2 linked regions of the Homo sapiens genome follow. The protein of the gene in region 1 interacts with the protein of each later gene in a biochemical or structural test. Each region holds a gene or a part of one and is shown on either strand. Other genes may lie near its edges.

The links. Proteins that work in one complex are often made in the same cells at the same time.
Region 2: the proteins of SYT3 (region 1) and AP2A1 form a complex in vitro, tested with the Homo sapiens proteins (one study listed by BioGRID).

Annotation. Positions count from the first base shown.
Region 1 is NC_000019.10:50,638,182-50,641,925, forward strand, and holds the start of SYT3 (synaptotagmin-3), read right to left. Parts: upstream 1,701-3,744; 5' UTR 1,609-1,700; intron 1,219-1,608; exon of another isoform or gene 982-1,218; 5' UTR 844-981; intron 1-843. UniProt on the Homo sapiens protein: Ca(2+) sensor involved in Ca(2+)-dependent exocytosis of secretory vesicles through Ca(2+) and phospholipid binding to the C2 domain.
Region 2 is NC_000019.10:49,797,968-49,801,711, reverse strand, and holds part of AP2A1 (AP-2 complex subunit alpha-1), read right to left. Parts: intron 2,911-3,744; coding exon 2,760-2,910; intron 2,386-2,759; coding exon 2,217-2,385; intron 2,108-2,216; exon of another isoform or gene 2,084-2,107; coding exon 1,946-2,083; exon of another isoform or gene 1,745-1,945; coding exon 1,562-1,744; intron 752-1,561; coding exon 654-751; intron 323-653; coding exon 91-322; intron 1-90.

The sequences.
Region 1 (3,744 bases):
GAAGGATGACATGGAGCCAGCCACAGGCGGGGGGCAGTGGCGCCAGGATGGGAAAAGCATTTTAAAGAAAAGCATTTTAGACAGTAGGAGCAGGATGACAGGGGCTTAGGGTAGGAAAGCAGTTGGAGGGTCCAGGGACCAAGGAGGCCAGACTGGGGTAGACGCGGGGAGGGCCAGGAGAGAAGGATGGATGTGGGTAGAGAGATTGGAGGTGGATAGGTATGGTGGGAGCTGGGGGTGGAGAGGTGGAGATGCAGAGATGGGGACCAAGTTGAGGGAGGGAGAGATACAGGGAGGGGAGACAGAGATAATGTGAAGGGCAGACTGAGGCTCCGAAGAGATGGAGAGGTGAACAGGCAGGCAGAAGGAAAGTCAAGGATTGAGACTTGGGATGGACAGTGACAAGGAATGAACCGAGATGTAATTAATTCACGGGGGCTTGAGAGACGAGAGGACGAGAGACGGTGAAGAGGGGCAGGCAGGAGTGTGGGCAGAAATATCTTTGAAAGAGAAACGGTCGAACGGGAGGATGGATGGGTGGGCAAGGACAGCAGATGATGGCTAGAGATCGCAGATAGACAAAAGGAGACAGGAGGGCTGGGCAGACAGACATGGGTTCATAAGGGAAGGTTCAATGAGCACATAAATGAGAGGAGGCTAGGAAGGAGAGGTGGATGTGGGGAGAGGGGGAATTAGTGACACATGGCTCGGAGCCAGGCATCAAGATGGGTTGAAGGGGATGCAGGGGAATTAGGAACAGACAGACCAGGGCTCACAGATGGACAGGTGTCGTGGGGGTGCTGCAGAAGGCCAGGACTCCAAGACAGGCATGGCCACACTCACCTGCGCTTATCTCTGCCGTGTCCTGGGTGGCAGCCGAGGCGGCGGCGGGCGGCAGCCCATGGGGGTTCTAGGGCGGACAAGGGGCTGTGGACCCGTTCCCACGCGCCGGGTAATGAGAGAGAATGTCTGATCTAGGGGCTGAGGCCGGGAGAAAAAGCTCAGCTTAACAGTCACATCTTGCCCTACTCGAGCCAGCTGCCCGACCCCAGGCGACCCACTGGGAGCCCGGCCACCCCCTCCCACCTCCGGGCCCCCAGCTCCCGTTGAGGGCTTAGAGACTACAATTCCCGGCAGGTCTCGCGCTCGCGCTGCTGCGGCTTCATAGACCCGGCGCTGCAGGATCTGCTGGGAGTTGAAGTCCTTAATGCCTCCGGGCTGCAGAGAGGATGGGATTTTTTTTTTTTTTTTAAGGTTTTGGGGGGTTAAGATGCTGGGGTCCCAAGACGCTTCAGGGGAGGGGAACGATGTCCGGGACTTCGAAAAGCCACGGAGCCCTAAGTCCTTAGGGGCCACGGAATGAGGAAACGATCCCCCCGCGCTGGGGATCGGTGGGCGAGGGGTGGGATACACCCAGGTGTTTCGGGACCCCCTTCCAGGGCCACGTGCCCCTCCCCCGGGGTGGCCAGAGAGCGCTGCAGCGCTCCCACTCCCCGGCCCGAGATCCACGCGCCTCTGCATCTACCCCGCCCCCATGCGCCGGGGCCGACCCCAGGGATTTGACTGGGGCTGGGGCTGTGGCAGGAGGAGGGGGAGGAGCGGACTCACCCGGAGCCGCCGCTGCCGCCGCTGCCGCCGCCGCCGCCGCCGCAGCCCCGCGCGCCAGCCGCGGTGCCGGCTCGGCTCCTCCCCTCGCCACTGTCGCAGGTCCGCGGCTCCTCCCCCTGCACCCCCTCCTTCCCCCACTCCGAACCCGCGGCAAGAAAGCCGAAATCACTTGGCCTCAGCAAGGAAGCAGGGAGATTGCCCGGGACTAAGGCAGCAGAGACCCAGTGGGTTTCCACACTGGGGACCCAGAGATCTAGGATCACGACGTGCTGCTTCTCCAGGGTCCGGGGGCCCAGTTCTCCGCCCCGCTATCTCACAGAGGTAGAAGTCCGGGGACCCCAGGCCCCTCTTCCCAGGAACCCAGGACTTCAGGCCCTCCAACCTGAGCCGCTCTGAAGGCCGGTGGTAGGAGCGGAAGCTGAGACTCAAAGGTACAGTGCCACAGCCAGGATAGAGGTACTAGCAGGGACCTGGGTTTGAATCCCACCTGGGCCAACTCCTGCCTGTGTGCGCCTCTTGCTCTGAGGCCCCGTTTCCTCATCAGCAAAATACACACCATAAACTTATTTCCTAAGGGATCCACAGTTTGAAAAACCGGTCAGTGTAGACAAAACATTGGTACCAACTAGGTACTTAATGAATATTTCTCAAAAGTAGTGAGTAACAGTTTCTGGTATATTAATAGCAGTTAATGGCAATTGTCATTTCCTATAAGTGGTGAAGTGCTAAGTGCTTTGAAAGCGTTTTCTCATTTAATTTTCACTTGGGTGCAATTATGACATTCCCATTTCACAGAGGAGACAACTGAGGCCCATGGAGGTTAAATCCCTTGGGTAAGGTCTAGATCAGGGGTGTCCAATCTTTTGGCTTCCCTGGACTGCATTGTTGTCTTGGGCTACACATAAAATACACTAACAGTAACAATAGCTGATGAGAAAAAAAAAATCACAAAAAAATCTCATAATGTTTTAAGAAAGTTTACAAATTTGTGTTGTGCCGCATTCAAAGCTGTCCTGTGCTGCATGCGGGCCTCAGGCCATGGGTTGGACAAGCTTGATCTAGATCTACATAGCCTGGAGAGGTGGCTCGGAGGCCCCCTCAGTGCTCTCAATCAGTGACATCCAAATAAATACAACCTCTAGGTAAAAATCAAAGGCTGGGCTGACACCTGTAAATCCCAACACTTTGGGAGGCTGAAGTGGGAGGATCCCTTGAAGCCAGGAGTTTGAGACTATCCTGGACAACGTAGGAGACTCCATCTCTACAAAACAAAAAAACCAAAAAACCAAAACAAAACCAAACTAGTGGGTGTGGTGGCGTGCACCTGTAGTCCCACCTACGCAGGAGGCTGAGGTGGGAGGATTGCTGGAGCCCAGGAATTTTTTTTTTTTTTTTTTTTTTTTTTTGTGAGACAGAGTCTTGCTCTGTCGCCCAGGCTGGAGTGTAGTGGCGCGATCTGGGCTCACTGAAAGCTCCGCCTCCCGGGTTCACTCCATTCTCCTGCCTCAGCCTCCTGAGTAGCTGGGACTACAGGCGCCTGCCACCGTGCCCGGCTAATTTTTTTTGTATTTTTAGTAAAGACGGGGTTTCACCGTGGTCTCGATCTCCTGACCTTGTGATCCACCCGCCTCGGCCTCCCAAAGTGCTGGGATTACAGACGTGAGCCACCGCGCCCGGCCTAGCCCAGGATTTTGAGGCTGCAGTGAGCTATGATTGCACCACTGCATTCCATCCAGCCTGGGCAACAAAGCAAGACCCCCATCTCAAGAATAAATAGCCAGGTGCGGTGGCTCATGCCTGTAATCCTAGCACTTTGGGAGGCCAAGTGGGCGGATCACTTGAGCTCAGGAGTTCAAGACCAGCCTGGGCAACATGGCAAAACCCTGTCTCTACAAAAAATACAAAAATTAGCTGGGTGTGGTGATGCATGCCTGTAGTCCTAGCTACTTGGGGGGCTGAGGCAGAAGGATCACTTGAACCCAGAAGGTGGAGGTTGCAGTCAGTGAGCCAAGATTGTGCCACTGGGCTCCAGCCTGGGCGACAGAGTGAGACCCTGTCTCAAAAATAAACATAAATATGAATAAATAAATAAATATTTAGAGCAAGAAATAAAAATGTCAAAATAAGTAAGTAAAT
Region 2 (3,744 bases), 840 kb from region 1:
CGGGGTGGGGAAGGTCAGTTCGGGTCAGGAGGAGGGGAGGGCGGGAAGGGGGTGTGCAAGAGGGGTGGGGTGGGGGGACAGGGCTCTGACCAGGACGTCGGTGCTGGCCACTGAGCTGAGGGTGAGGTACTCCACGGCTCGCTGCTGCAGCTCCACGTCAGCATTGCGCAGCTGGGAGCCGGCCCGCAGGACGCCCTGGATGGTGGCCTTGGTCTCGGGGAAGAGGTTGATGAACTTGATGTAGGTGGACAGCAGCAGCGCCCGCGTGGCCACGCTGCACAGATGGAACTTGGAGTGGAGCAGGGAGAACTGCACTGGGGGGCTGTGTGCAGGAGTGGGTGTCAGCGGGGCCAGGTTCCACTGCCCTCTCCCAGAAACCCCCTCGAGAGGTGCCCCTCCCTAGGATGGACCCGTCCCAGGACCCCAAGCTGCTGGAGGGGAGTGGCCCTCCCCAGGCACCAGACAGGGGCCGCAGTCACACTCTGTCCACGATCCTGGGACTAAGCTCCTTTCTTACCCTGCTAGGTGGATTGGGGTGGAGGCCGAGAGGATGGGAGCCCATCACTGCCTGCCCTGAGACCCCTGGGGATCCCCCAAGCCCTGGACCCCTCAGAAGCATGTGTGTTCTCCCCTGCAGGCTGAGGCTCCCTCACCTGGAGCGGGGGTCCCCAGCAATCAGGTTCCCAAACTCCCCAAGGATGTAGCCGCCAACCTTCACCATGTTCTCGTGACAGGCAGGGGCCTGGAGCGCCTGAGTGGGGTGGGGAAGGGCGTGGAGAGGACAACAATGAGCGCCCTCTCCGGGATCGGTGGGTGCAGCCACCTACTGACTGGTGGAACACTGAAAGCTCTGCTGCAGGTGGGGTTATAGGTGGGAAACTGAGTCACAGAAAGGTTGAGTGACGGGCCCAAGCTCACACAGGAAGTAAAACAGGGCTGTGGGCCGGAAGCAGTGGCTCATGCCTGTAATCCTGGTACTTTGGGAGGCCGAGGCGGGCAGATTGCCTGAGCTCAGGAGTTTCAAACCAGCCTGGGTAACATGGTGAAACCCCGTCTCTACTAAAAATACAAACAAATTAGCTGGGTGTGGTGGCGCGTGCCTGTAGTACCAGCTACTGGGGAGGCTGAGGCAGGAGAATGGCTTGACGCTGGGAGGCCGAGGTTGCAGTGAGCCGAGATCGCACCACGGCACTCACTCCCCACTCCAGCCTGGGCAACAGAGTGAGACTCCGTCTCCAGAAACAAACAAACAAACAAACAAAAAACAGGACTGTGTGGGGCCCCTTTCCTGGGGCAGAGGGAAACTACCGAGATCCGGGGGCCAGGACTGCACACTGGGTGCCCCATGCCCATGCCCTGGGGACTCCTCACATCAGGCCCATGAGACCATAGCCCTGGGTCCCCTGGGTTGGCCCAGAGAGGCAGAGGCCCCATTTTGAGGTCACGGCAGTGCAGGAGAAGGAGGGTGGCTGCGGGCTGGCAGGCGCCACGGCCCCGGCCATCCTTGCTCTGCCTCTAGGTCCTGTCGTGGGGTCATAGGGTCAGGGTCAGGGATGCTGACCTCAAAGACGGTCTTGGCGGCATAGCCCTGGACGTCATCACGGTTGGTGACGATCTGTAGCACACGGTACCACACCTCCTCACTCACGTAGTCGCCCGCAATGCGGATGAGGTTGAGGATGGTGTCCACGTACCAGCTGTAGTCCACGGCGTACTTCTCGGCCAGGATGGCCACCTTCAGGACCTGCCGCCGGGGCGTGTGAGAGAGAGTGTGCCGCAGGCCATGTCGGGCTTTCACTCACCTGGATCTGGGCTCACCACTGCCCCCATCTGGAGACCCAGGAGTCCAGGCCCCAGCCCCTCCTCCCTTAGACTTAGGAATCCAGGCCCCCAGCCACCTCCTGCCTCAGACCCAAGAGTCCAGCCCGCACCCCACAGCACTCACGATCTCCTCGCGGATGGCGTAGTCTGCCGTCTCCAGGTACCGCAGCATCTCCGACACGATCTGCTTGGCATTGCTCCGGTCACACATGGCGTAGAGGAGGTCAGCCGCCCGCTGCCGCACGCTGACGTCCCGCTCCGTCTGAGGGCGGAGAGCAGAGCCCAGGTGTGTTTTAGACTCCCTGTTGGCACAGGGTTGGCCACCCAAGGGCCTCTGAGCCTCTGGTCTTTCTGAGGGGGGTGGCAGGCCCGGGGTGGGCTCCAAGGGCTCACACCTTGAGGGCATTGATGACGGTGTCAATGTGCGTCTTGACGGCTTCATGGGAGAACTCGGAGCTGGCCAGCGTGCACATGCTCTCCAGGGCCAGGTAGCGCAGGTTGGTCTCCCGGTGCTGCAGGAACTGGCCCAGCTGGTTGCAGGCCCGAACCAGGAGGTTGGGCTCACTGCCAGCAGGGGCCACAAGAGAGGGATGGTGAGAGAAACTGACAGGAGAAGGTGGAGGACTCGGGCCCCAGCTGACCCATCTCACAGCCCCCAAGGATCCAGGTCTTAACCTTGCCGGCCTTGCATCGCAGTACTGCACCTCCAGTGACCCAGACAACTGGGCCTTTGAGCCCAGAGAAAGATACCTAGCAATTCTGCCCCCAGGAAGGGCCCCAGCACCAACCTCACAGGTGACACTTCACAGCCCCATCCTCCTCCTACCCTACCTAAAAGTCAAGATTCCCTGCCCTCTGCCTAGGACTCAGGAGTCCGGGCCTCCATGCCCCTCTTTCCTGGCCCCAGGCATCAGGCCCTGATAGGCCCAGGCGGGCACCTGTCATAGTGGATGATGAGGCTGATGGTCTCGAAGAGGATGGCGTTCTTGGCGTTGGAATGCTGCACCTTCTTGGATTTGGGGGGCTCCTGGGCCTTGTTGAGCACAGTCTCCAGACATTCCACCAGCCGCCCCTTCACAGCCGCATCCTCTGGGGAAACGAAGGGGACGCCCCCGGCTGAGTGTCCTGCCCACCTGGCACACCTGCTGGGGTGGTGGCCATGCCCCAGCTCCTGTCTTCCAAAGGAGGAGCTCGGGGTGCCTCTGACACTCGAGAATTCTGCAGCTCAGGGCCAGGGTCTCTGCTCCCTCAACCTCTTCCCAGCCCAGCAGAGATGGTGAGACAAGGCACCTCTGGAGACACAAGATCTATCCCCAGACCTGGGCTCTCCTCCTGCTCTGACCCTCTCGGGCAAGAGGTGGCACCATGTGAGCCTCAGTTTCCTCATCTGCAGCTCTGAGGCTCCTTAGGTTTCTCACAGAGCAAAGGAAGCTCCAGGAACCTTCCCCAGAGGTGCCCCCAAACCCAGGCCTTCCCAAGGACTGGTGTGAGTGCTGAGCAGCCCCTGACAAAAATGCACAAGCCACCCACCCAAGTGTCCATTCAGCAAGAGGCCACTGCAGGCACACTCGGTGCCATCCTCCTGGCCTAGAGGCTGGGAGGCCAAAGGAGACAAGGCTCAACCAGGTGCCCCCTCACCCCCCAGAGCTCTCCACCACTGACAGATGCCAGCCAGCAGCTCACAGGAGCACCAATCACCACGTTTCCTAGAATGTGACGTGTTTTCAAGTGTATGCAAGAGCTGTCAAGCGTTCCAGCAAAAAATGGTTCCGCAGATTTTTCTGCAGAATTTTCCGCAGGAAAATTCACCAGATAGAGGAACAAGCTAAAATACACCACAAGGCAGCAATGAGCCCAGTCGCCACCATGGGACACACAGCAATGGCATCTCCTGGTTTCTCCATAAACAGGTGTAGGGGGGCT